Homo sapiens: one gene and its partners. The protein of the gene in region 5 interacts with the protein of the main gene of each other region in a pairwise test. Each region holds a gene or a part of one and is shown on either strand. Other genes may lie near its edges.

What was found.
Region 1: the proteins of TGFBR2 (region 5) and SP6 interact in binary tests that used the Homo sapiens proteins (3 or more experiments, as listed by UniProt).
Region 2: the proteins of TGFBR2 (region 5) and GPM6A interact in binary tests that used the Homo sapiens proteins (3 or more experiments, as listed by UniProt).
Region 3: the proteins of TGFBR2 (region 5) and MED12 interact in binary tests that used the Homo sapiens proteins (3 or more experiments, as listed by UniProt).
Region 4: the proteins of TGFBR2 (region 5) and SUV39H1 interact in binary tests that used the Homo sapiens proteins (3 or more experiments, as listed by UniProt).
Region 6: the proteins of TGFBR2 (region 5) and PCSK7 interact in binary tests that used the Homo sapiens proteins (3 or more experiments, as listed by UniProt).
Region 7: the proteins of TGFBR2 (region 5) and ISY1-RAB43 interact in binary tests that used the Homo sapiens proteins (3 or more experiments, as listed by UniProt).

Annotation. Positions count from the first base shown.
Region 1 is NC_000017.11:47,847,959-47,852,298, forward strand, and holds the start of SP6 (transcription factor Sp6), read right to left. Parts: upstream 3,206-4,340; 5' UTR 2,961-3,205; intron 529-2,960; 5' UTR 472-528; coding exon 1-471. UniProt on the Homo sapiens protein: Promotes cell proliferation. Plays a role in tooth germ growth. Plays a role in the control of enamel mineralization. Binds the AMBN promoter.
Region 2 is NC_000004.12:175,697,103-175,701,007, forward strand, and holds part of GPM6A (neuronal membrane glycoprotein M6-a), read right to left. Parts: intron 1-3,905. UniProt on the Homo sapiens protein: Involved in neuronal differentiation, including differentiation and migration of neuronal stem cells. Plays a role in neuronal plasticity and is involved in neurite and filopodia outgrowth, filopodia motility and probably synapse formation.
Region 3 is NC_000023.11:71,128,561-71,132,465, reverse strand, and holds part of MED12 (mediator of RNA polymerase II transcription subunit 12), read right to left. Parts: intron 3,869-3,905; coding exon 3,748-3,868; intron 3,353-3,747; coding exon 3,251-3,352; intron 3,151-3,250; coding exon 3,037-3,150; intron 2,787-3,036; coding exon 2,611-2,786; intron 2,432-2,610; coding exon 2,252-2,431; intron 917-2,251; coding exon 845-916; intron 394-844; coding exon 260-393; intron 90-259; coding exon 1-89. UniProt on the Homo sapiens protein: Component of the Mediator complex, a coactivator involved in the regulated transcription of nearly all RNA polymerase II-dependent genes.
Region 4 is NC_000023.11:48,702,961-48,706,865, reverse strand, and holds part of SUV39H1 (histone-lysine N-methyltransferase SUV39H1), read right to left. Parts: intron 602-3,905; coding exon 455-601; intron 369-454; coding exon 239-368; intron 1-238. UniProt on the Homo sapiens protein: Histone methyltransferase that specifically trimethylates 'Lys-9' of histone H3 using monomethylated H3 'Lys-9' as substrate. Also weakly methylates histone H1 (in vitro).
Region 5 is NC_000003.12:30,644,404-30,648,308, reverse strand, and holds part of TGFBR2 (TGF-beta receptor type-2 isoform B precursor), read right to left. Parts: intron 3,563-3,905; coding exon 3,394-3,562; intron 1-3,393. UniProt on the Homo sapiens protein: Transmembrane serine/threonine kinase forming with the TGF-beta type I serine/threonine kinase receptor, TGFBR1, the non-promiscuous receptor for the TGF-beta cytokines TGFB1, TGFB2 and TGFB3.
Region 6 is NC_000011.10:117,218,468-117,222,372, forward strand, and holds part of PCSK7 (proprotein convertase subtilisin/kexin type 7 preproprotein), read right to left. Parts: intron 1,292-3,905; coding exon 1,124-1,291; intron 698-1,123; coding exon 590-697; intron 102-589; coding exon 1-101. UniProt on the Homo sapiens protein: Serine endoprotease that processes various proproteins by cleavage at paired basic amino acids, recognizing the RXXX[KR]R consensus motif. Likely functions in the constitutive secretory pathway.
Region 7 is NC_000003.12:129,154,416-129,158,320, forward strand, and holds part of ISY1-RAB43 (ISY1-RAB43 protein), read right to left. Parts: intron 2,506-3,905; coding exon 2,440-2,505; intron 2,261-2,439; coding exon 2,218-2,260; intron 1-2,217. Other genes in the region: pre-mRNA-splicing factor ISY1 homolog, read right to left, coding at 2,218-2,260, 2,440-2,505. UniProt on the Homo sapiens protein: Component of the spliceosome C complex required for the selective processing of microRNAs during embryonic stem cell differentiation. Required for the biogenesis of all miRNAs from the pri-miR-17-92 primary transcript except miR-92a.

The DNA of each region.
Region 1 (4,340 bases), on a different chromosome or scaffold from region 5:
TCCGACGTAGCCCCCCAAGCCCGCCTGAAGCGCCCCCGGGTGGCCAGGTGAGGTCAGCGCGCCCTGAGTGTGGGGGAGGTCCATCCAGCTGGTGCCCGGATGAAGGTCCCACCACGAGCCATCCTCCGCGCCTGGGTGAGTCGGCCTGAACCACGATTCATAATGGTGTGACATGTCCGGCTGCAGGAGCTTGGAAAAGGGGCCCGGGGCCAAGGGACTGTCGCTTTCCAGGTCCTCGCAGGTTACCCGCGAGGAGGCCCCTGGCAGCTCATAGCCCTGCGAGAAGTCCACCTCCGGGCCCAGCGGGAGGCTCTGCAGCTCTCCAGGCTGCAGCGGGGAGGGGTAGTCCCCGGCCTCAGGGCTCGTGTGGCCCTGGTAAGTTTGGAGAGGCTGCAGGTCGAGGCGCGGCGGGGAGGCGTGCGGCGCTTCCGTGTGCTGGCTGCCCAGAGAGCCGCAGACAGCGGTTAGCATTGCCGGGATCCGGGGTGGGGTGAGGGCAGGGACGGTCAGGGGCACCTCAGACGGGACCTAAAGGAGGCGAAGAAGCAGAAAAGTAAGGGAAATAACCAGCTCACTTTCCCTCCTAACCCAGGTCCTCCTCTCTGGCCCCAGGTGTAAAAGAAGGATGCACCTCTGAACGAGGACTAGAGATGAGTTTAGAGAATTCGGGAGTGCGAGGAAGGGTCCAAGATGTGAGGTTCTCATCCAAGCACAGAGGATGATGGAGGTCTACCTTCCTCTGGGTGATCCCTGCCGTATGACCCAGCTCATCCCTAGAGTTGGGCCACTCCCAGGATGGTAGGTCAGATACACCTACAGCACAGTGCTAGAACCATCCCCACCCCAGCTGCCCAGGCCAACACAAGGGGCAGTGGCATTTTCCCCCTGCAGACCTGCTGTCAGCCCAAATGGAGGATCTAGACACATCTCAGCTTCCCCAGTTTAACTCAGGATACAGATGGGAGAGGGGATGGTCTATTTCTGAAACCCAAAGCTTCAGGTGACCTGCCCCTCATAAAGCCTCAAACGGGTCCTGAGTCTTTGAAAGAGTTCTCATGCCATTCCCAAAGCATGTTCAGTAATGAAAAGCATTTCACCGTCTACGCTGCTCCCCGCCTGGCCTGGTCACATCGGGCCCACTAAACCGACTCACATGCCCCCACCCCCTTCCCTCAAGCAGGGACTTCACCTCCCTGGGGAGCAGCTTTCTGGCCACCAGATACCCCTGGAATCTGGGAGATACCCCCACCAGAGAAAACCAAATTTCCATCCCTCTCTTGACTCATACCAGTGCCAGGCAACTCTCTGACTGCTACCCATCTTCCTCTCCATGCTAGGGGAGGCCCAGATAGAAAGTTGGGAGGGAATGGCTTCCCCAGAGAAGAGCTTGACAGCAAGCTCTGGAAGATACAATTGCACCCCTTTAAGTGATACAAGGTCAGAGTGCAGGAAGAGGAGGGCAACAAGAGAAGTCATAACCACAGAACCTAAGAGCAAGAATTGCCCAAAAAGATGACATAAGCAAGTGCATCCTAGGCATGGATCATTTTTCAGAAGCTCCCCACCACCACCAGAAGATTCTTATATGCAGCAAATGTTGAGAACCACTGCTCCAGGCCAATCTTCTTATTTTGAAGAGAAGGAAGCAGACTGAATGACTTGGCACAGTGACTTGGACAAGGATGTTCATTTATTCATTCAATAAACCAGGTCTCCTAACTCCTGGACTCTCAGTCTGTTACTTTCTGTAAACCAATCTTTCTGTAGACCCTTAGAACGCTAAAGACCCCCAACGCTTTCTCAACCACATATCTGTGGCTTGAAGTTCACTCTTTTCTCACCACCTCTCCCTAAGGCCTGGAAGCCCTGGTGCCTCAGCTGGGCAGGTTTGTGTGCCTGGGTCTTCTCTACTGGTGGGGGAGGAGACCAGTGACTTAGGGCAGGATTGTTTCCTTCCTACAGCAGGGCTTAGCTGACCCTACCATCTCCTGCCTCTGGGACCAGGGAGGTGGCACTGATAGCCTGGGAGAGGGAGGGAGAGGAGGACGGGGGCACCTACTCAGGCTCCGGCTGCCTCACCACAAGAGGAAAACAGGGTGAAGTTGCAGGAAAGGAGCCCCAGGCCGGGGTGGGGCAGCACAGAAGGGGCTGAGCGGGAGCTGTGAAGCCAGGGACCCTAACAGCTTTTGGTGCCTGGGAACTGCCCCAGGGGCTGGAGGATGGGAAGGCTAGGATAATCTGGGCTCCAGAGTGGCTTCTCCTGGCAGAGAGCTGGAGAGCCCAGGCCTGGGATGCAATGGCCTGCTACCAAGATTTCAGAAACCCAAAGCGGGGTGATTCTCAGGTTCTAAGACCAGTCCCACTGGGTGGAAAACTGCCCTGGAGCTGGCTCAGTCTAGCAGAAGATGCAAGACTAAGACCCAGGAGAATAGAGGAGGGGGCAGGTCTTGGGGGTGATATGGAGCCACCCTTAGGTGGCAACCCTTAGGTTGCCTCTATGGTCCTTGACCCACCTGCCCCAGAGCTGAGAGGAAAGAAGGGAACAGGATTGAGTGCCAAGTATGTGTCCGGTTCACTTCCAGGCCTAGAAAGAGTTCAGGAAAGGAGAGAGCACAGCGTACATCGCAGGCTTCTCGCTCCCCGAAGTGGGAAGGCAAGTCGGTGCACCCTTATGCCCCATTCGGCTCTGCCTCTCTGGATCACCGGCTAGTACTCCCAGTTCTCAATGTCCCGGTCCTCTGGTTGTCCCAGTCGCTCCAGTTGCCCCGGTTTCCAGCCTCCTCGGTCCCTCCAGTCTCTCCCGTCCGCCCAGTTTTCCCTCCATCGGGGTTCTAACCTCTCAGATCCTTTAGGACCACCCCGCTCCCAAGGCCATAGGAGGCTGGGGCGCGTTCGGAGTGCGTTTTTTCGAGACAATCTCCGTAGCGCTCACCCCTGGCCACCCCGACCCGCGCTCCTACCTCGAGGCTGCGGCGGGCTCCGGGCACGGCTGGCTGGTGCGCTACTGACGGTCGCTCATAGGCCCTGTGCGCCGGCGAGCTCTCCAGCGGTAAGGGGCAGGAGCCCAGGGCGAGCCAGACCCGGCGGCTGGCGGCAGGCGGCAGGCGGCGGAGGTGAGCGCTGGCGAGAGGGCGGAGGACGGAGGGCGGGCAGGAGCCAGCGAGCGAACAAGGCCAGCTCCGCCCGTGACTCACCCGCGCTCTCTGCCTTCATCCTCTCCCCAGCGCTGCTTTTTCCCCCGGACTCGCGGCCCCGCCCACCTCACCTGCGGCCGCCTTTAACCCTTGAGGGCTCGGCTGGACCGGAGCCCAGCCAGGGCCGCGAGGAGGGGGTGGGCGGGAGTGGGGGAGGAAAGATAACTAGGGCGTGCGCCGCCCGCTCCCTCGCTCCTCCCTGGTCCCCTCCACTCCCAGGGAGAGGGGCCCGGGTGGGGTGATTCCCAGGTTCTAAGACCCGCCCCGCCGGGTGGAAAACTGCCCTGGAGCTAGCTCGGTCTAGCAGAGGACGCAGGACTAAGACCCAGGGGGAATGGATAAGGGGGCAGGTCCTGGGGGTGAGACAGAGCCACCCTTAGGCAGCAACCCTTAGGTTGCCTCGATGGCCCTTGACCCTCTCTGAACGGACAGCCCTGCCCCGGAACTGGGAGGAAAGAAGGAAACAAGATTGAGCGCCAAGTATGTTTCCAGTTCGCCTCTAGGCCTAGGCCGTGTGAAATTTGTCTTGGCTGCCCTCCTTCGCCATTCCCCCGACCCCCGACCCCCGTCCCCTGCCCTGCCTCACCCCCCGCACCCCGCGCCGCTTCTCTCCACCACCACCCTTCCCCGTCCTTTTTTCCCTCTCCCTTCCGGGGTATCCCTCTCTGACCTTTCTGGGTGACCACCTCCTCTCCTCCCCTCTCCCAGCCTCTGCCCACCACCGGTCTCTGCTTCCCCCCTACTCTGGTCCCAGGTCCCAGCAGCTGTCACTCTGCCCCTCCCCTTAGGTAGCAACCCCAGTGCCTAAGAAATCCACCTCTCAAATTCGCCTCTCCTCGCCCTCCTGTCCTTCGGGAAATGCTCAGCCTACGCACACCCTCGCCCCCGAGCACCCGGTTCTGAAGAATGGGCAGGCGCCTGAATGGCCCTGGGAAGGGACACTTCTGGAAGGAATTGAGCTATCCCTTGCCACCATTCCTTTCTAATTCTCACCAGAATAACTAAACCCAAGGTTCTTAACTTTGGGGAGGGGTCTTGGATTCCTTTGAGAAAAATTCACATGCCCAGTGCAATATTCTGGTAAAATTTCAGCGCGCTCGCGGAGCTCACAAAAACTTCCCTCAAGATCTGGATGGGTCGACATTT
Region 2 (3,905 bases), on a different chromosome or scaffold from region 5:
CCCAAATACAGTCTTTATCTTATAAGCTACAGGAGGGCATGCTTATGAGTAAGACTGTTCCTTGCCCAGTCCTTTGGAGAGCTATTCAAAAAGCCAAGTCACTTAGCAAAATTAGTGGTTTGGATTTCTGTATGATATCTAATTTTCTAACAGTCTCCATATTTTATTGTCCCAAATGAATCTGCTTCACAGAAGCAAAATACCTACCCTACTTCTTACTTAGTTTGTCAAATGACTTATGAAGCACAGTAATAACACCTTTCCAAATGTCTCTCAAGAGAAAGTCTGAATCACAATTTTTCTGATGAAAAAAATGTCCTCCTCATCACATAGCAGAAAGCGGCAGAGCTGTTTTGAGTGCTGAGTGGGCCTAAATGGCAATGCTAAACCAACAGAAGTTGTGATTAGAGTGTAGAAATAACTCCTAATGGATAAGAAGTTGCACACTTCTTATCAAAACAGTTTGGAACTAACAAATGACCTGGCTTTGAGAAACTAAGCTGAAAATTAAGGGATTAAAAGCTTCTGGGGAAGAAAATAGACAAGAGACAGAGAAGTACTAAAAGTTATACAAATGACTATAAATGAGTTATATAAATGAGTAACAAAATCTTTGAGAAATTCTTTGAGAAATACATTCTTCTCTCTCTCTGGAGGTTGCCACACCTCAAATGTAATGGGACAAAACAGTATAATGGGTGATATCAGCTAAGAGTTTAGGAGCTCAACTTCAGGCCAGCTCCCACTGGCAGGGGCTGATAGTATTTAGAATTATATGTCTAAAATACAGATTACATAAGAATGAGGATTATTTGCAAGCTCATTTATGGTCAGTATGGTTTGCATTCTGGACAAGTGATTAGTGAAACCGAATAGTCACACGTCATTGCGTTTGCTGTTGCCTTTCATGTCTCCCTCTGGACTTGGAAATATTGATCATGTTGAGATAAGTGTATGTATTTAAGAGAAGGGAGATAGTGGAGAGAGGAAAAGAGAGGGAGAGAGAAATTTTGTGGTCCCTGAGATAAAGAAGTAGGTAACTCCTCAAATCCTGAGCACCACAGATGGAAGATTCAGGGCTTGGGCAACTGGAACTGGTTTTATCTTTTAGTTCACACATCCAGTAAACAAGCTTCTTTTCCAAGTATATAATGTAGGAGTGATGAATTTGGTTGAACTAAGTATGAGAACTATGGAGAAAAGAAATAGACTCTGTAAATTACTAAAATTAGGTAAGTCTTTTCTCCACAATTATGCTCTTATACATTCTTTTCCAAACCTACCTTAGTTGATTTCCAAGGAGATGTATGGCCTGCAAACGAATCATTCAGCCTCCTCTGCCTTCTGTTTGCTTATTTTACATCTTCTGTTTCCTCAGCACTTTTTCCATTCCTCTGATACCCCGTAAGGCAGCCCTGCATAGCGTAATATCTACCTCCTCGAAACCTTTATGTAATCTTTAAATTTATCACTTGGCACTAATCGTATTAAGAGGTTTACAGTACATATTTTCCCTCTGTGTTTTCATGAACTATTTGTTGGTAGGGAGAGAGTCTCAAATACTTTGTTAGCTCTGCAGGGCCTGTATAAGGAATTTTAGTAATGTGAAATATGAAAACAGAGATAATTTTGACATTTACTTTTATTCCAATCAAAATGGTATTCTTCCCATTCCAAACATGCATTATTGGTTTCACATTTAATACATAATATAACAGAGCAAAGGTAAAACTACCAAATTAAGCATATAATCTCCAATCTTTCTTCTAAACTCCCCTCACCCCTACATACACTGCCTTTAGAGCTTTAGTAGATCTCTACAATATATGAAAGTTTGTTGTTTAAATATCAAATATCTTAACAAATAATTGCTGATAGATGTACATAAGCATCTATTGCCATTCATTAGGCTTATGATTTCTTACAAACTTGTAATTCTATAAGTAAATTTAGCAATTTGGATGTAGTTTACATAGAGAGAATCTGTAGATGTTAAGGACATCTGTGATGGTTTAAAATAATGCACAGTGAGAACATATTTTGTCCAGGGTAGGCTGAGATAAATCTAGAAAATGTCAGTTTTATCACATTAAAATATATCCATGCAATCATTTTCTTAAGACTCTCTAAAAGCTAACCTGCAATAATCTAGAGCATTTTAATTATATTCCAAATGATGAATATGACTTATAATCTTTAAAGGGTTGATTCATGCTATTTGAATCTAAGGCATTGATAGCTATTGAATTTTGGTTTTATACATAGGTTTGTATTTAGTTTGATGAAAACTGATAAACTGTCTACTAATGCTTAAAGGATTCAATTTAATGGATAACGTCAATTTTTCAGAACTAATTAGTAAAATAAATTTACATTGGGAAATATAATATGCAACTTTCAATTTGCTGTTAATTCTTCATTCCCATTTGTCATGACCTTAGCGAAGCTCTCACTTGATACTACAGAGTTATGGACTATATTTTTATAATAATTTCACTTCTTAATTTAGTAGCTAATCAGTTCCATTCTTCTAATCCCCATGTATGTGTGGGGGGTGGAGGGGACTGGGTTTTCTCAATCTCATTTTCCTCATTTTATTTCTTATTTTCTTATCAGTCTTTCTCTAGGTTTTAAGTATCAACAGGTTTTAAATAAACAAATATTTCAGCTTTGCTTTTACTAAAAATTTTGCTATGTACTCTGTCCAGGGGTATATGTTGTCCACCCACCCCCCAAAACAGAGCATTCTTGCTCTGTTACCTGATAGAAATGTATAACTCTATTCTCATTTTTTTAAATTTTTATTTTTTGAGAGAGAGTTTCACTCTGTTGCGAAGGCTGGAGCTGCCTTCTGGGCTCAAGCGATTCTCATACCTCAGTCTCCCTAGTAGCTGGGATTACAGGCTTGTGCCACCATGCCCAGGTAATTTTTGCATTTTTAGTAGAGACGGGATTTCACCATGTTGCTTAGGCTGGTCTCGAACTCCTGGCCTCAAGTGATCTGCCTACCTCAGCCTCCCAAAGTGCTGGGATTACAGGCATGAGCCACCACACCCGGCCCACAACTCTATTCTCTTTTCATTTTCAGGGGAAATTAGTAACTTTAATAAATAAAAAAAAATTATGATATTTATAAAAAATACTTTGAAATATACTTTTATGAAAAACAATTTATGAAAATTACTTTGAAAAATACCTTGTTCAAGATAATCTGCCTAAACCTGATGGAGTATAAGAAATTTAGCAATATGATATATTCCTGATATTGTAGTTGGAGAAAAGTTGTCTTCTACCTAAAAAGTTGTCTGGGTTGACCAAGTGTTTTTTCAGAGTAGGATCTTAGGTTAAAATTATACCAGTTCAACAGGAATTGCCCTGCATAAATGAGAATTGTGATCAACCTCTCTTAGATGGAATGATAAGATTAAAAAGCAAAGCTACACTAACCATCCAGATACTCACTCAGATTTGTAAATCTAAAAGCATCATATTAGTTAAAAATGTATATACATTAAGAATGTTTGAGTTTATTTAGAATGACAAAATAAAGGAACATGAAGAAGATTACAAACACAGGTATCAAACAGCATGAAATAAACACAAGAAGTTATAAATATAACAAAAGCTATAAGGGCTCAGGAGACAAGTTTATTATCAGCTGGGATTACAAACAAACTAATAAATTATTTTCTTTTCATGGGCATAAAAATCACTGAATAAATTATCTGAATTAGTAACTTATTTAGCAATAAACGTTTCTAGAATTCAATCCCAAACCTTTGTTCTCTATATTATGCAATAAGGAGCTGAAATTTCAACAGCAAACTTTAATTTTCAGACTGTTTAAGTTACTTTTCTAAAAAAGTTATTTTAACATAATCATAGTGATCTTAGGAGTTTTACAT
Region 3 (3,905 bases), on a different chromosome or scaffold from region 5:
CAGCAGCCTTTAACACATGTCCCTGGACTGAGGTGGGCAGTTTAGCAATGAGGGGGGCCACCAGCCATACACCAGAGCGCTCTAGAGAGCTGGAGAACAGACAGAGGACACAGGGTCACAGGGGAGCCAGGCAAGGCTGGAACAATCTATCCTCTCCTTTCCCTGATGGACATGCTGGCATCTCCACGCATCTGATATCACTCACGCTACCAGCAGATAAACTCCTAAGGGGATGGGTCCTAACATGTTTCTATCCGACCTGAGCACAGGCTTGGTCTTGCTGCTGCTGGGCATGTTGCTTGCAGTACTTCCAGAAGATGACCCTGTCTCTGCTGACTGTTGGAAAACCTCGATTGTGGCCTTGGCGATGTTCTCCAAGAGGGAGTTCATCTCCTGGGGAGGATGAAAGGCACAGAAGTGCTAAAATAGGTAGCTAAGGGTGAAGGAAAGCAGATGGTAGGAGAGATCGGAGATGACGGAGAAGGACAACACTGGCGGAGATTGATGGGGAGATAGGAACGCAACTCTGTTGGGAATCATGCCCTCTAGTACCTCCATATTTCTCCAATTCCTCACTGTCTTCTCCTTTACATACCTCCTTACATCTATGGCCAGAGAAACAGGCTCCACCACCACCACCAAGCTTCCCCACAGCTCAGAGCTCCAACACTCTCAACCCATTTCCCTTATCATCAGCTCCACTTGTTCACCATTTTCCCATCCCCTCTTATCTCTCAGCTCAAGAGCCCAAGGGTAGGATCTAGGTTCTTCTGTGGTGGACCGCCTCCCTGACACATGGAGCTGAACGTGAGCACAGGAAAGGGAGGGTCCAGGCACTACTCACATTGTTAGGGGTCTGCTTGATCATGAGCTGCAGCTCCAAGGAAGACTGGCGCATGGTCCACTGGTCCAAGTTCTGTGATAGAGGCCCCACACCCAGGCTAGTCATCATCGTGTTACCCCCAGCTACCCAACAATCTGAGGCCAATTCCTGATCTCCTGCAACATTGAATCACAGACTCCTGGAGGTCTGAAAGGGACCTCTATGTCCCCATCTTTAAGAAAGACTACATTTAGGGAGGCTGAGACAGGCGGATCACCTGAGGTCAGGAGTTCAAGACCAGCCTGGCCAACATGGCAAAACCCCATCTCTACTAAAAATACAAAAATTAGCTGGGCGTGGTGATGGGCGACCTGTAATCCCAGTTACTCAGGAGGCTGAGGCAGGAGAATTGTTTGAACTTGGGAGGCAGAGGTTGCAGTGAGCCGAGATCGCACCACTGTACTCCAGCCTGAGCGACAAGAGCGAGACTCCGTCTCAAAAAAAAAAAAAAAAAAAAGACTACATTTAAATAGTCCAAACTAGTTGAAAATCTTTCCAATTTTTAAAATAGTTCAGGAAAGATTTCACATCTTTCCCATCCCTTCGTATCAGGAAGTTCTGCTTAATGCTTAACCTTGAAACCCTTGATGTTAAAGTTGAAGCCTGCTTCTCTTGTTTTAGACCAGCTGCTCAAAGTCCCTGACAGAACCTTTATAAGACAATCTCTCAAAGTCCTGTAGAGACCAGAAGGCTACTGTTAGCTAATCTCTCTTCAACACTATCTCTTCTGGGCTGAAGAGACCTTATTCCTTTAGCTTTTCCTCAACGGCTTTATTTTTCCACTCTCTGGTCATCTGAAGGTGTGAAGCAATGTGAAGAGGAAAGTGCACAGACATGTCTGGGTTCACATATTGACTCTAAACTTATGGGCTATGTGACGTTAGACAAGTTACTTAACCTCTTCAAGCCTCAGTTTCCTCATCGGTCAAACAGGGAGGCTCACCTACTTCATAGGGTCATAAAGATTAAATGAGGAAATGTGTGCAGAGTGCCTAGCACAGTACCTGGCACAAAGCACATGCTCAGCAAGTAGTAGCTATTACTATTCAGTTCCTGAGCCATGGCCAAAATGCCAAATATACACGGCCCACACCTAGGCCTCCCAGATGCTATGCTTCCCATTGATAAGCTAGATTCACTCCAGATAGCTATGCCCTCACCTAATACTCTTACACTGGAGTCTAGACCCTACTGGACTTACTCCTCAGCCCATGCTGGAGCTGTTTCTCTCGCTACCTCTCCCCTCCCCTATATCCTTGTTTGTCTTCCTCTCTACTTAACTGCCCCTCTCCTTTTCTCAAGGTTCCTATTGTTTCTCCCCAGATTGGGCCCACTGCTTCCTCCACAGCCCCCACGGCCTTGGCCTACCTGGAGAATGCGCTTTATGCGCTGCCGCTGGGGGTTTTCCCCATCCTCATTGTCCAGCAGTCGATGTGGATAGCAAATGAGCTGCATGAGGCGCTGCGCCTGGGCACTACTCAACACTGGGTCTTGCAGGTCATTGCTGTCCTCACACAGAGACTTAAGGCAACGTTCTCCTACCCATTCCTGAGGAAGCTGACAATCAGGGACTGGGAACAACCAGTGAGGGGGTTAGGAATATGGGGGATGGGCTGGAGTTGTTAAGGAACACAATGTATAGTAGGGAGCTGGTGTGATCATGGGCTGGAAACAGAACTATATTACACAGAGGCATTTAGGAGGTGTGGGAGGAAGGTGAAACTGACCTGTTGGCAGATGCTGCGCAGCACGTACTTGGCATAGACATCCAGACTGGCTGTCTCCACAGAGATGTTGCGGCCACCCTGCCTCCGACCACCACTGCCACCTCCTCCCTCCTCCTCTGGAAGTTCTTCTGTTCCTCCTGTCACAGTGAAGCCTGAACCTTTCAGTTCCGCATCCCCTGTGGTTCACGGGTGGGAGATAGGGAGGGCAGAGTGAGATTGGAACACGTGTGGAGACCCACCCTGGGCCCACAGAGGTAGAAACACCCCAAATCCTGCCCTATGGGACAGAAATATACTTCTCTCCCTCCCCTCCTCCCCAAAGGTCAGAGAGACCACCTTCAGAAGGGAGAAAGACTGTCCCTTGTAGTTTAGCTGGCACTCCACCCTATACACACTTCTGGCACCACTCCCTTCCTACCCCCGTACCAAGTACAAACACAGCCTTGAGAACAGCAAACACGGCTCCATCCACGATGCGGTTCTGGGAGGCAGCCAGCAGGTGGCGGTCGCAGGAGGAGCGGATTCCTACTGTAGGCTTGTCTGGGGAAGGCGATGAAGTCAGGGGAAGCAAAAGTAGAATCCACGGAGGCAGGGGAACCACACTTTCTACTGTTGGCTGGTTCAGATCAGGGTCACTTACTTCCATCAGACTGGCAAGGATTGAGCTGCGGTGTCTTGAAAAGGTGAAGGAGGATGCGGCAGGTAAGCCGGGCCCCTGGCTCAGAGTCCTGTTCACTACAAGCTAAAAGGAAGACAAAACAGATCTGGAAGGGATGAAGTTAAACTGTATGTGGGTTTATGTGTGTGCGTGCCTGCATGCATGCAAGTGTATGGCAGGGGCATGGGAGAGAAGATGAGGTAAAGTGAAAGGAGAAAAAGCAAGATAATATTGAAAGCGAGGTAGAGCAGAGAACTGTTACGCAGTTGAAGGGTCAGAAATTGGAAAGGTCAGGGCTGCAAATCCAGGGCTAAAAAACAGGTTTCTTCTAGCCTTCAGCATACCAAAGGACTGGCCTTCTGAGGAAGGCCAGGGAGCCGCAGCAAGGTCTCCCACAGTGAACAATGAGAGGATGGCCGTCCAGTGTGTATTGAAATTTGAGGTCTAGAAATGCTAGGGGTTACAGATTGGTAGTTCACCAGCATTAAGGAGTGAAGGGATGGCAGCACAGCGAATCAGATCTTCCAGGAGCAAACACTGCCGAGCGATGAGGATGGCAACAAAAGTAGCCAGCGAGTCATGAAAAGATAGGTCACTGACCTGGAGGAAAAAACAGACAGACACCATGACTCAGTGT
Region 4 (3,905 bases), on a different chromosome or scaffold from region 5:
TTGGGAGAAGTTGGTATGAATGCCTCAGGGTTAGGGTTCAGGGGCTGGGAATGAGGGGACTCGAGGGGTAGGCAGGGGTCTAGTAGTCCGAATGGGGGACTGGGAGTCAGGAAGAGCATCTTAAAGCTCCCGCTAAAGAATTTTCCTTGGTTCTCTGAGTGACTGGTGTGCCTTTGGGAGGGGTCCTTGTGTCCCAAGTCACAGTGCGCCCCTGCCCCCAGTCCCTTGCCACCCCCACCTTGCATGTTGTAATCAAAGGTGAGCTCCTCGCCTGCCCGGATGGTTCTTGTGGCAAAGAAAGCGATGCGGGGCAGCCGCTCGTCAAGGTTGTCTATGAAGACGTTGTACACCTGCAGGTTGGGGTCACACTGGGCGAGAAAGAACAGTTGGGAGAGTGAGGAGGGGCTCCAGCCTGCCCCTCTCGACCCCTTGCCCGCCTGCCGGGGGTACCCACACTGTGGTTGACAAAGTGGGAGATGTTGCCATAGTAGGCGGCATCCACGGTGTACACGTCCTCCACGTAGTCCAGGTCAAAGAGGTAGGTGGCGCCCTGACGGTCGTAGATCTGGCCCCGCCGCTCTGCCTCCTCTGAGGTAATGATCTAGGGAAAGGGCCATGGGTAAGGGGAGATTGGCCGCGAAGTCTCAGGAAAGCCGGCACTGCTCCTGACTTCTGAAGGACAGGGAGCAGGAGGCACCCCTGCCCGTGGACACACATGGGCAGTGACGCAGAGAGTCTGTCGGCCCTTCCTGAGGAGCTGGGCCTCAGCTGGCAACTGCCTGGCCCGCCTCAGGCCTCTGGCTAGCAGGAGGAGTCCCTGGCGGTGAGTGCAGGCTGGCCTGGCTGCAGGGCCCAACTGGGGCCACGCGAGCACCTCCTGCCGCCACCCAGCAAGAGCTGCCCAAGAACCCCTGGAGCCTCCAGTGCCTTGGGACGGAGCAGGAAGGTGATCAGGAGAGACCAAAGCAAGGGCAAGAAAGAAAGTGACCCAGGGTGCCACAGGGAGAGATACTTACTGATCCAGGCAAGGGAGCCTGAGCCCATGCAGGACCCAGCAGGGAGGGCGTGGAGAGAGGGGAAGAAGAGACCCAGGCCATGGGGAAAGGGGGCAAGGGCCTCAAGACAAGAGAGGTGGAGGCAGAGGCAGAGGGAGGCCCAGGTTCAGAGAGCCAGAAAGAGGCTGAGGCCACACACTTCAGAGACAGCAGCAGAGGAGGAGGAAAGATGAAGGGAGAGCACAGTGAGAGAAGCTCTCCCTCGGCCCAGGGCTGCGCAGTGCCAACTGGTGCTTCAGACGGCAGTGGGTGCCTCCTCCCCAGCTGGTTCCCTACCTGTCCTAGGAAATGGGAAGCTTTGCTGCCATCCTAGCCCCAGCCTGTCCTTGCCTCCCAATCCACGCCAACAAATCTCCGGCCCCATGGCCCCTCTTCCCTGAGGCCAGCAACGGCAGCCTCCTGCCAATCCCCAAGCGTAGCTGACCAGGCCCTTCCCTGGGTAGGGGTCCCACTGTACCTCAGCCAAGAACAGTGCACAGCACACAGGAGACACATGGGGACTGCTGTTTACTTTGATTCTGCTTCCTGGCTTAGCAGCCTGTCCTCTGTCCAAGTGGCGGCCCTCCAGGTAGCTCCAGTACTCCCCCGCCACACTTCTTCCTTCCCCTCCCTTCTCCAGAGACCCCTCTCGGGCTTCCTTCCTTGCTCACCCTCATGTGGGCCGGTGACCATGCCCTTCTGACTTGGGAATCCATCTCCTTAGCTAGGATGGCCACACTGGTGTTCTCCCTGGCTGTCCCCTCAAGGCTGTGTTCCATGCCAAAGGCTGACTAACAATGCCTTGAGGAAACCAAGATTTACCCTGCCTCGGGCCACACTACCCACTGCCCCGTGCTCCAGTTCTGTTCCTTGAGGAACCTGGCTCCCTTGCCAGGGTTTTTATTGAGGCCTTCCTTGTGCCCAGTCCCAGCATGCAGGGCTCACGGTCTGATCAGGGAGACACAGGGACCAGGCCCGGTCCACTCTCAGGGGTCACAGGTGGGTAGGGGATACACAGGAACCAGGATTGGTCCCTGCCCTCAAGGGGTCAAAGTCTGGTCACAGAGAGACAGATTCACACACCCACAGTGTAAGACTGTGATCAGGAAACAGTGCTTAGGGCTTGAGGGGGAATGGAGAAGAGACGGATTCTCTAAAACGAGTTGCAGATCATAAAAGGGCTTTACCACCTGGTGGAAGAGTGGGGACTCTCTCCTAAGGGCCACAACATGAGGGTGGAATATGTCAAGATCAGTCTCCCTTCACCTCCTGGAGAACAGTCTTCCTTGTGGCATCAGCTCAAACAGATGGGACCTCTCTAGGCAGCCTTCCAAGCTTCCCGTTCCTCCCCTACCTCAGAAGCTGGCCACTTGTCTGATCAAGTCCTGGGATCAAAGGGCAGCCTCTCCCAGGCTCACAGGCCTAGTGGGTGGGGTATGAGCCATCTTTTTCACCGTAGGCCCTCCTTGAGCCAGGAGGAGTGCCCACATCCTTCCTAGTCTCCATCTTCATGCCTATTCTGCCACTACCTGCTCTCCCAGTCTCACCAGGAGTGAGTCATACTGCAGGCCCTCCAGGGCACAAACACTTCTTGGTTCCTTCTCATCTTCTTTTCAGTCCCATTCTCTAATGATTGGTCAACCCTGAAAGCTTGGGAACAGATGGGCCTGTCTCTGCTCCCTAACAGCTCTCCAGAATGAATGGAAAAGACAGGCTGTAAGCTGGCAGTTCCGAGAGGGTGCTGACGTGAATGGGAACTAGAAGACTTGGAGTCAGCTGCTGCTCTGCCCCCTCCTGGATATGGGATCCTGAATGTTCTCTCTGTGCCTGTTTCCTCAGCTAAAAAAAAAAAAAAAAAGCTACAGCCTGGCAGGGTACCAGTTTTAGATATTATTTGGGCCTTTATTTTTTTATCCATTGTACTACTTTTGTGATTTTAATCAAGTTATTCTACCTCTCTGGGCCTCAGTTTTCTCATCTGCAGAATGGGAATGACAGTGACAAAATCCCAACCTGACAGGGGCTGTTGTAAAGATCCATACAAGATCATGGACGTGAAAGGTGTTCCTGTTTCTGATAGGAGAGTGAGCAATGTTAGGAGTGGTTATGAGGACCAGTTATAAATGTAAGGCACACCCTTAATTTTATGTGCCCTTTACCAAGAAAGGAAAAACTGCTGTTAATTATAAATGATACACCATGATTTAATTAAGACATCTTCATTTCCGAGATGTTAAAATAGGAAGAAAATGCATGTTTTAGAATGGATAAAATAGGCTGGCATTGTCTCTTGGGTGAGGATGGGAATGTTCTGCAGGAACGTGAAAGTTCTGACCCAATGTGGGAGGCTGCAAAGGAGGGAAGGGCAGCTCCCGTGGAGGGAGCTCTTGGTACAGACTGTCAGTACATGTCCCAGCTGAAGAAGGACAGTAGATAGCATGGTGTGCAGATAGGCCCTTGATTCCGTAACACCCTGGCAGCATCTGGGACGGCACTACAGAATCAAGTAAATTAGAACTGCTGCAACGAAATGTATGACTATTACCCCAAGTAGGATAAATAAAAACTACAAATAGGACCCTATCCGGTCAGGCTGGGTCCTGTAGCCAGATGGGTTACAAAAAAACTTGGTCTTCCAGACATTTTGGATTTGCTGAAGTTTGAACTATGCTGATAACATTTGTATCAAACTTACTGTGTACTGAACACTGTTCAAGTGCTTTTTCCAAGTGCTTGATACATAGTAACTCATTTAATTTTTGTAACAAGCCTGTGAGGTGAGTGCTATTATTGTTCCCATTTTACATAGTAAATGCAGGCACAGAGGTTAGTGATTGCTGATGAGTAGTGGAGCTGGGATTCAGCCTCGGG
Region 5 (3,905 bases):
AAAGAAAGCTGCTCTATAATTATTGGGCAGCTCTTCCAGAGCCTCCGGTTTTCTACCTCTTAGCTACTGAGAGAACTAACATCACAGAGAGAAAACAACTGTAATACTTGAGACCTGGTAAAGCCCTTAACTGCTTTCTCCACTCACTCCTGTAACAGCCAGGCACAGCTAACTTTTCAAACTCTTTTTGGATATAGCTGAGCATAGGAAAGGTAAATACAAAGAAGTAAATACGGACTTCTTTTTTTGTCCTGCAACATTTGCTCTGAGCCACTGAAGAGGTTGTCAATTTCCACTGAAAGAAGAACCAACATGATAAAATTAATTTTGGAGGCTGGGCACGGTGGCTCATGCCTGTAATCTAAGCACTTTCAGAGGCCGAGGCAGGCGGATCACAAGGTCAGGAGTTCGAGACCAGCCTGGCCAACACAGTGAAACCCCATCTCTACTAAAAATACAAAAAATTAGCCACGTGATGGTGGTGTGCACCTGTAATCACAGCTACTCAGGAAGCTGAAGCAGGAGAATCGCACGAACCCGGGAGGCAGAGGTTGCAGTGAGCCCAGATCACGCCATTGCACTCCAGCCTGGGCAACAGTGGGAGACTCCCTCTCAATTTAAAAATAATAATAATAATAATTTTGGTTATAAAATATTTCTATCCTTGGAGGCAGCTTAAGCATTTTATATGGAATGGGCACACAACTGACATTAGTTAAATGAATGAATGAATGAATGAATGAATGAAAAAACACTAAAACTGATTAAAAAAACAACAACACTGAAATCTACAATCATAGTAGAGCCTTTCAGTTTCCACACTGGCTATTTTTACAATAGCCTCCTGTCTTAGTTTAGGTTTCCTGGAAACAGACCTTGAGGCTGTGAGAGTTCTGTGCAGGAGGTTTTTGGAGATGCATCTGTAAGCGACTAAAGGCAACAGTATTGCACAGAAGGAAAAAGCTAAACTATAATGCAGGTTGCAGCAAAGGCCTCAGTGAATGCCTTGGAAACTCTGAAAATGGGATGTCCTTCAAAGATGTACCACATTATGGCAAAATAACCAGGAATTTGTTTCTCTGCATCAACTAGCCATGGGATGATGGCTACCCATGAAAAGTGTCCAACGTGAATGAGGCAGCTCCCATCACTGGAGGGAAGGCTCAGCAGTGATCCTTCAACAGCCAACACTCCCAGGGAATGAGTGCCTTGGTCATGAAGGAGGATCAAGGAGGGCACTATAGCGTACCCTATACTTCCCCTTCTCATTATCAACACCCCTGGCTTCACGGGAGAATTTTCTTTGGCCAGCACAGGTCAAAATAATGTTCATTGTATTTACCCTTTATAGCTGGGACACAGAAAAGACAGGGAGGCCTCCTCTCTTCGACATGCTCACATTTTTTTGAGGCTAGCAAAGCCTCTATTCTAGAGAGACTTGATTCACATTTAATGATTTGGGCTTGTATTACTGGTCAGGAAAACAAAAATCTTAATTAAAAGAGCCTTTTTGGGTTGCAAAAGCAAGTGCTCACACCACCGTAGATATTTAAGAAACCACGGAAGGAAGCTTTGAGGCCATCTAGTCTGGTGTCTCAATCTTTCCTGCATTCTATTTGACATATGGTCATCCAGCCTCTCCTGAACTTCACTTGGTGCTTACAGAAAAGGAAGCCTGTTCTGCTGTTGGGAAACCATGATTGTGAAAATGTCTAAACTTATGCTGAGCACAAGTCTGCCTGCCTTGCAAATGTTATGGATCCTCCCTCTACCCTTCAGAGTTATGCAGAATATGTTTATTATATTTTCTACCTGAGAGCCTTTCAATTTCATCAGCAGAACCCACGATCTCTCTTCACTGTACTAACCATGTCTAATTGCCCAGGCCATTCCTCAGACAGCATGATTTCTAGGCCTCTAACCACACTGGTCCCTCTCCTCTGAACACATTCTTTGTCCAAATCCTTTCTTTGAAAGCGTTACCTAGAAGTGGACATGGACAGGTATCATATCATATTGGCAAGTATGTCATGACAAGTCTTTGCTGTTAACATTCCTTCAGTTCTTAAGAAACCAGTTCATCCCGTGGTATGTACAGAAGTTTGCAAGGTTTCCAGATCTATCATCAAGGCTAGCTTTACATGGTCTAGGGGTCTCAAATGACTCATTCCCAAAAAAGGGGGAGAGATATTTGGGTTTATATTCTTGTTTGTCAACTAGCCAGGAGACACATAAGTTACTTTTTTTAAAATGGCCAATAAATTAAAAACATCAGAATAAGTCTGCAAAATGTCATATCTCATTAATGAATTTATGTACTTTTGTAAAATTACAACTCTTCTAAAGATCAAGGTTATTTCTTGTTCATGCTCACAATCTATAACCATGAATTAATCAAATGATTCATGAGTATCCACTGTGTATGTATAATTATTATTTGAGATGTATGTATGAGTTGGAGGGAATGAGAGAGAGAGAGAGAGAGAGAGGAGAAAATGTGATCCGATAAAAATATATAGTTCTGGTCGGGCATGGTGGCTCATGCCTGTAATTCCAGCACTTTGGGAGGCAGAGGCGAGTGGATCACCTGAGGTCGGGAGTTCGAGACCAGCCTGGCCAACATGGTGAAACCCCGTCTCTACTAAAAATACAAAACTTAGCCAGGTGTGGTAGTGGGCACCTGTAATCCCAGCTACTCGAAAGGCTGAGACAAGAGAAACGCTTGAACCTGGGAGGTGGAGGTTGCGGTGAGCCAAGATTGTGCCATGGCACTCTAGCCTGAATGACAGAGCAAGACTCCATCTCAAAAAAAAAAAAGAAATATGTAGTTCTGAGCTGAGAGAAAGAAGTCATATCTATCCCAATGGTTATATGAATAATATAACCAGAATTTCTGACTAAAAAAACAGGTTGTTTTTGTGGTTCTCCAAGTAGATTCCCCATTTTTGGCTGGTAGTTTTCTCTTCCAACAGCCAACCTTTCATCACCTCTTCTTCCAGACCTGAGATTGCCTCAAGAGAACAAAGCTCCTGGTCTCACTATGGGGTGCTGAGGAGGTGTCGGTTAAATGACTACTAAGCGGCAAATCCCTCTTCTTGATACAAGAAAGAGTTTCCAGATTTATTATATTAAAGATCATTTTATGATCTTTACATTTATCATGATCATTTTATAATCATGATACGTTTATATACCCACATAAACGTACACATACATGCAGAGAACACCCCTAGAAACTACATTTAATAATCGAAAGAGAGATGGTCTAAAGGAAAGGGAAATGGAACAGGTGTTTACATTTAGGAGACAGAGATACACTGACTGTGTGTACTATGAGAATACATTATGTAAAAAGGGGAAAAGAAAGAATAACTTCTTAAAAGGCTTGCTTACCATACAGCCACACAGACTTCCTGTGGCTTCTCACAGATGGAGGTGATGCTGCAGTTGCTCATGCAGGATTTCTGGTTGTCACAGGTGGAAAATCTCACATCACAAAATTTACACAGTTGTGGAAACTTGACTGCACCGTTGTTGTCAGTGACTATCATGTCGTTATTAACTGAGGAGAGAGAAAGATATATTAAATGATTATCCAACTGCCAGGCAGCCTGCCAATGAATTCCTGAAGATGTTATGCAATTTCAAATGAACTTGATGTCATGAGAATGAATCTGAAGAAAGGCAAAATAATTCCTTCACATCAGATTAGAATTATCTGGTGTATGCAATTTGTAATAAAATCCATTGTACCGTGGTGAGGGGTGGTGAGGGGTTGGGGTGGTTGAGTAGCCATTTGCTTTTGTCAATGGTTGTCATAAGGTCCACTTTCTACAAAAATCTTATCATTCAATAAAGAAACCTAGATGGGCCCACTGCATAGTACGGAGTGCTGGGCCCACAAA
Region 6 (3,905 bases), on a different chromosome or scaffold from region 5:
TTCCACAGGACCTCCAGGGAACGGGGGGACTGCGGAATCGCCTTGTTTTCTTTTAACACGGGACTGACGTAGGATGCTAAGTAAGGGACAGATGTCCAGATCTATGAAAGGAAAGGAGGGGATGGCAAATCAACAAACAAGAATGATCACACCCACATTCTCACAAACACACACGCCCTTGTCAATACGATCTTGAAGGTTTAGCTGTCTTTATTTTTCCACTCCTCATCATCTTCCTTCAGCCCTCAGCTCCTGCTTGCTCGCTGGAATGCTCCGTACAGCCCCCAGCTAAGGAACCAGAGGAAACAGCTGTGTCCAGGGTGGAGGAGGGGAACCAGAGCATCCTGAGTCCCACACATACTCAGGTCCCATTTACTCTATTAGTAGTTTGGAAACTTCAGTGATAGCATTGAGCCTGCTTTCTCATTTGTAAAATGGATATCAGCTGGGATGAAGGTTGAAGTTGTTAAATCAATGAACTGAATGAACATTTACTAGGCACCTATGATATCCCAGGCAGTTTGGGGCATTCAGCTCCGACCCTTGGTCACTCCACACAGGGCACCCTGCCCTGCCAACACCTGTTCACCTTGGCTGCATTCACGAGCCTCCAGGCGTTGAGGAGGCCGAAACCGTGCTGGTGGCTATGGCTGAAGCCTGCCTCGTTGGTGACCCACTCTGCACGGCGATCCTCATACTGAAAGGACAGAGGTCCTGGTTAGTCTCTTGCATTGCCAGTGTAGTCTCAACAATCTGACTCTGGTTTCCCTGCTTGCCCTGCTGGCTGATCCAGTCCACGCTCTCCCACTATGGCTACTGGGAATGGATTCCCCAAGGCAAGCTGGGACAAAAGGTCAAAGCCCATGATGTCACCACCCCACTGGCTTGCTTCTAGAGAAGGGGCCAGGAGGCACAGCCAGAGCTCCCCTTTGCAGATAAAATGAGTTTAGGCCTGTGGTCTTTGTGGGGTCCCCACACCTGTTCTTTACATATGCAACTCTGAAAGGGACTCTGAAAGAGACTTAGTATCTAACATTTGGGACATTGAGAATCTAAGGCCACCTGATACCCGAACTCTGGAGCAGGCTGGGCCAGGCCACTTGTCTACCTGCTGGTATCTCACCCGGGTGGCTGTGAAGACAATGATGTGCTGGACGTCACGCCACGTGAGGCAGGGCCGCACCTGCAGCATTAAGGCTATCATGCCAGCTGCCAGAGGCGCTGCAGCTGAGGTCCCTGTGTGGCCCTCAGTGCAGCCAGTGCCCTTCTGAAGGTCCCAGTCAGTGGTCACCTGGAAGTGAAACAGGAAAAGGAAGTAGGTTAGAGACTGAGTTCAAGCTGGGGACAGTGGTGTGCACCTATAGTCCCGGCTACCTGGGAGGCCCAGGCAGGAGGATTGCTTGAGCACAGGAGTTATGACTGTGCCACTGCACTCCAGCCTAGGTGGCTGAGTGAGAACCCATCTTTAAAAAATAAAAAAAGAATATTTTTTAAAAAAGAAGCTAGAGACTGAGTTCAAAGTTGTTATGGGGGAAAGGTACAGGGCTGGTCCTCAGAACAGGTCTCACAGGTGGACCCTTCCTTTGTTAGAGCTGAATCTTTGACCAGAGAAGGACCCAATAGCAGGGCAGGGCAAAGGAAACCCTAACCCTCCTGGCCTCCTAACAGAATATCTGGAGAACAGAGACAAAGATAATAAAAGTTACTTTTGAGGGTGTGGTTGTTGGCAAAAGGAGGCAGAGATAGGAAAGGGCTCCCATCCAGTGCAGATAAGGGTTTCCCAACTCTTTTCTTTTTTCTTATTTTTCCTTGTCGCCTAGGCTGGAGTGCAGTGGTAAGATCATAGCTCACCACAGCCTCGAACTCCTGGGTTCCAGCGATCCTCCTGCTTCAGCTTCCCATGTAGCTGGGACTACAGGCGTGTACCACTGCACCACACTAATATTCTTATTTTTTGTAGAGACAGCATCTCACTATGTTGCCCAGGCTGGTCTCGAACTCTTGGCCTCAAGCAATCTTCCTGCCTTGGCCTCCCAAAGTGTCGGGATTAACAGGCATGAGCCACCATGGGGGGGCCTCCCGATTTTTGCTCCTAATATTCTTGCTCCCATTCCTAAATTCTCTATCCCAACTCCCAACTCCAAACCCTTCAACCCCCACAACCAAGCTAGACAGAGGAAGTGGCCAGGGGAGCTACTGGGCCCAGCTGGAGCTGGGACAACACTGACGGCACTATTCAAGGAAATCCAATTTGGCAGCTCCGCGACAGGGGCTGGAATGATGTCGGCGTGAACACAGGGAGTGTGTTCCAGCAAGAGAGGACTGTGTCCTTGCCCACCCCCGAGCCCTGCATGGACTCAGTGTCTATAAGGCCCGCCTGCCCGGCTCTACAGCTCTCAACAGGACAAGCTGCCTCACTGCTCTGGGCCAGATGCCATGAAACCCCTTCTCTCTGTGTGGTTCTGAGGTGGGGAGCGAGAATGGGGCAAGGGGAGGCAGTGACTGCCTGGCATCGAGCTCTTTTGGGGCTGTCATCACCCCTGGAGACTCAGAGGGTTTAGCTGAGGCGGGCCCTGCCTAAATCTGCTCCACTCTATGGCACTTGGATCGTTGGCCCATGGTGTCAGTGCTAACACCGGAGAATTTCTTTCTTCCAAACTTCTCTTCTGGGTCAGATACCAGGGTGGCGACTTCTGCCAAGAGCTGCCCTTTCTCCACTGTACTCACTGCTTCCCTCCCAGCTGTTAGAGCAGCTGCCAAGAGATGTAATTTTCACCCAGCCATGGCGCACTCCCAGAAAAAAAAGGGAAAAGCACTCTCCAAGTGGTTGTCTCAATGAGAGTGGGAGCCTGGTTTATGCAAGGGAGCGGGTTGATTTTTTTTCCTGTTAAGGAAACAGCCTTGCAGTGATAGTCTGAAGTGTGGCTGTGAAGCCCACGAACTTGTCTATGGTGGCAGGAGCCACAGGCAGGCATTGAAAAGTCCAGAGAAGCTTTGCTTCCCCAGGGAGCCAAATGGTGGGAAGCATATGCCCCCAGCCTCTGCCCTCAGAAAGACAGCTCTACCCAGCTGCCCTGGTCATTGACTAGAAACTGGCAACAAGAAGTTTCCATAGCAAGGACATTCCAAAGATGGGAACTCTGCTAAACACACTCTCTCTTCATTTCTGGGCAAATTACAGTTCAGATGGAAGAGGGTGGTGAGGGTGAGAAGCTGAGGTGAGTTAAAATGAGAAAGGCCAGGTACAGCAGAGCAAGAGTGACAATTATGTTGTAGAACCTTCTTAGGTCCCTGGCCTGGGCAGGGCGAGCTGGGTTCCCTAGAGTTCTGCTAGAGGGTGGAGTTTGGTATGTTCCTGTTCTTCCTCCTAACCCAGCCTGGCCTGCAGTGGGTGCCCTCTGTGCACACAGCCCAGCCTCTCTTCCCTCTCTACTTTAGTCCACTCCCTTTTCTCTTCTCCCTGGGGCTGGGAGGAGGGGGTAGTAGGGGTCAACTGGCACAGAGCCTTGGAACATTGTGTTGACCAGAAGTCATTTATTGGCATAACAAAATTTTAGTTTTGGAAAATAAATTTGACCCAGCAGGAAGACAAAGCAGCCTAATTCCCAATGGCCCCAGAGAGATCTCCCGACTCAGCCACTGGAGAAATTTGATACCACCTGGCTCCAGCCCAGCTCCTGCCTAGAGCCTCCTATGCCCACACTATATGGTTGCGGGCAACAGGGACAGGCAGGGAGCTCTAGGAAGATGGTCTAGAGGCCTGCCTTAAACCTGCTGGGATGGCGCTAAGCCCAGCTGGGTGTAGGCGATCGTCTTCAAATTCTTTAAATGGGTTCCACAGGTTAGAGAAGCTCCATGACCCTGCTCGAATTTCATTTGCTATGGCTCCAATTATAGCTCCAGAG
Region 7 (3,905 bases), about 99 Mb from region 5:
GGTGACAGAGCAAGACTCCATCTCAAAAAAAAAAAAAAAAAAAAAAAAGGACCACTTCTCTTAAGTGAGCTTTGGCAGTTTGTGTCTTGTAAGGAATTGACCTATTTCATCTAAGTTGTCAAATTTATGGGCATAACATTGTCTGTAATATTTCCTTATTATCCTTTTAATGTATATAGATTCTATAGTAATATTCCCAATTTGGTTCCTAATATTCTTAATTTGTGTATATTTTTTCTTGGTCAGTCTGACTAGAAGTTTATCAATTTTATTGATCTTTTTTTTTTTTTTGAGACAGAGTCTCGCTCTGTCTCCCAGGCTGGAGTGCAGTGGCGCGATCTCAGCTCACTGCAAGCTCCACCTCTTGGGTTCATGCCATTCTCCTGCCTCAGCCTCCCAAGTAGCTGGGATTACAGGCGCCTGCCACCACATCCAGCTAATTTTTTGTATTTTTAGTAAAGACGGGGTTTCACCGTGTTAGCCAGGATGGTCTCGATCTCCTGACCTCGTCATCCGCCCGCCTCGGCCTCCCAAAGTGCTGGGATTACAGGCGTGAGCCACCACGCCCAGCAATTTTATTGATCTTTTCAAAGAACCAGCTGTTGGTCTGTTTTCTCTATTCATCTTGTTTTCAATGCTATTGATTTCTTATCTTTACTATTTCCTTCCTTCTGCTTGCTTTGGGTTTAATTTGCTCTTCTTTTCTAATTTCACAGGGTAGAAGCTTAGATCACTGATTTGAAAACTTTCATAATTTTCTATTATTTCAGTGCTATATATGTATTTTTTGTTTGTTTGTTTGTTTGTTTGTTTTGAGATGGAGTCCTGGAGTGCAGTGGCACGATCTTGGCTCACTACAACCTCCGCCTCCCGGGTTCAAGCGATTCTCCTGCTTCAGCCTCCTGAGTAGCTGGGATTACAGGCACATGACACCACACCCAGCTAATATTTGTATTTTTAGTAGAGACAGGGTTTCACCATGTTGGCCAGGATAGTCTCTTATCTCCTAACCTCGTGATCCACCCGCCTCGGCCTCCCAAAGTGCTGGGATTACAGGTGTGAGCCACCGCACCAGGCCAGTGCTATACATTTTTATCTAAGCACTATATCCCATAAATTTTTTCATCCCCTAAATTTTGACATTACGTTTTCACTCTAATTAAATTCAAAATATCTTCTAATTTCTTTGCTGTTTCCTCTCAGACACATGAATTATTTACAAATATGTTGTTTAATTTCCAAATATTTAGGAATTTTTCAGATATGAATCTGTTGTTATAATCAGAGAAAATACTCTGTGTAATTTCAATTTTTTTTTTTTTTGAGATGGAGTTTCACTCTTGTTGCTGAAGCTGGAATGCAATAGTGTGATCTTGGCTCACTGTAACCTCCGCCCGTTAGGTTCAAGCGATTCTCCTGCCTCAGCCTCCCAAGTAGCTGGGATTACAAGCATGCGCTACCACGTCCAGCCAATTTTGTATTTTCAGTAGAGGTGGGGTTTCTCCATGTTGGTCAGGCTGGTCTCAAACCCCAGACCTTAGGTGATCCTCCCTCCTCGGCCTCCCAAAGTGCTGGGATTACAGGCGTGAGCTACTGCGCCCGGCCTCAAATATTTTAAATTTGCTAACATTTGTTCTGCAGCCCAGAATATGTTTTATTTTGGTGAATGTTCCACGTGCTCTTAAAAAAGACCATGTATTAGGCCGGGCATAGTGGCTCATACCTATAATCCCAGCACTTTGGGAGGCTGAGGCGGGCGAATTGCAAGGTCAGGAGATCAAGACCATCCTGGCTAACATGGTGAAACCCTGTCTCTACTGAAAGTACAAAAAAATTAGCCGGGCGTGGTTGTGGGCACCTGTAGTCCCAGCTATTCGGGAGGCTGAGGCAGGAGAATGGCGTGAACCCAGGAGGCTGAGCTTGCAGTGAGCCGAGATCGCACCACTGCACTCCAGCCTGGGTGACAGAGTGAGACTCTGTCTCAAAAAAAAAAAAAAAAAATGACGTATTCTTTATTGTTAGGTACAGTGTTGTGAGACAGAGTATTCTACAACTTTCAACTACATCAAACTGACTGATCGTATTGATTGGCTCTTCTATGTCCTTACTGATTTACTATCTACTTGCTCTATTGATTATTTTGAAAGGAGTATTGAAGTCCTCAAGTCTAATTGTGGATTTGAGAATCAAGCACTTTAAAGGAACAAGTTTGCTTACCATTCTGAATCTGAGCCACTTTTTTAGAGATCTCTCCAATGATCTATTAAAAAAAAGTAATACATTTTAATAATTTTTGAATATGTTAGAAAGCACAGAAAAACTATAATTCAAAATTAGTATTTAAAAATACTTAGACTTTTGGTCTAACAGTCATTTAGATAATAAGAAGAAATGAGAGACTTGTTACTTCTACTGAAATCAGATTTACCCAGAACATACCTGTCGTCTCCACTTCTCAGCTTTAGGCAGTTCAGTACATTCTGAGGCCAGAAAGGGTCTTCGTTCCTAAGGAGAAAAAAATAACACATTTCCATTATACTATTTACAAGTTTCAAACAACATTCAGAACTGATTCAGGCCTTAAGCCTAAATCATCTAATGGCCTAAAAACATTTGAAGTTTTCATTCCAGATGATCCTCATCAAGCCTTAAACCTCATTCTACAATCTCTCCTTAGGAAAAACATTGATTGCATTGTATTTAATATTGGAAAGAACTTAACTGTCCTGCAATAGAGAGACAGCCAAACTAGGTTATAGCTATTTCATGGCATATTTATAGTACCTTAAGAAACAATGTCTATCAGTGTTTAAAACAAACATACATAAATATGGGTGTATTCATATACATGTGCGTATATAAAATTAAAAAAAAAATCCAAAGAATGGTATATATTATCTCTAATTTGGGTGAGTCTCTAAGAAATGAAATAATTTACCGGTTTCAGCTTACAGCTGTTCTCCACATCATACTCCAGTCCCTATTCAATATTAGAGCTGGAGTAATAAAGGACCCAGTCATCAGGCTGGGCACGGCGGTTCATCTCTGTAATTCCCACTTTGGGAGGTCAAGGCAGGCAGATTGCCTGAGGCCTGGAGTTTGAGACCAGTCTGGCCAACATGGTGAAACCCCATCTCTACTAAAAATACAAAAAAATTAGCTGGGTGTGGTGATATGTGCCTGTAATTCCAGCTACTCAGGAGGCTGAGGCAGGGGAATTGCTTGAACCAGGGAGTTGGAGGTTACAGTGAGCCAAGATCACGCCACTGCACTCCAGCCTGAGCGACAGAGCGTCCATCTCAAAAAAAAAAAAAAAAAAAAAAGGGCCGGGCCCAGTCATCATAATACAGAAGAAACTGAAAAACAAGCAGCCAGATCCATCACCCTGCCTCAGCTATGGGGAGGTATTGGAATTCAAGTGTACAGACTCTCAAGAGCGTCAGCAGGTACAGATAAGAAATAGGAAATTCTGAAGTTTGAAGTCTGTTGACCTGGAGTGCAGCAGCGCGCTCTCGGTGCACTGCAACCTCCGTCTCCAGGGCTCAAGTGATTCTTCTGCCTCAGCCTCAAGTAGCTGGGATTACAGGTGCCTGCCACCATGCCCAGCTAATTTTTGTATTTTTAGTAGAGATGGGGTTTCACCATGTTAGCCAGGCTGGCCTCAAACTCCTGTCCTCAAGTGATCCACCCCCCTCAGCCTCTCAAAGTGCTGGGATTACAGGCGTGAGTCACTGCACCCTACTTTTTTTTTTTTTTTTGACAGGTTCTCACTGTGTCACCCAGGCTGGAGTGCAGTGGCATGATCATGGCTCCCTGCAGTGTAAGACTCCTGCATTCAAGTGATTCTCCTGCCTCAGCCTCCCCAGTAGCTGGGACTACAGGCAGGCGCCACCATGCCTGGCTAG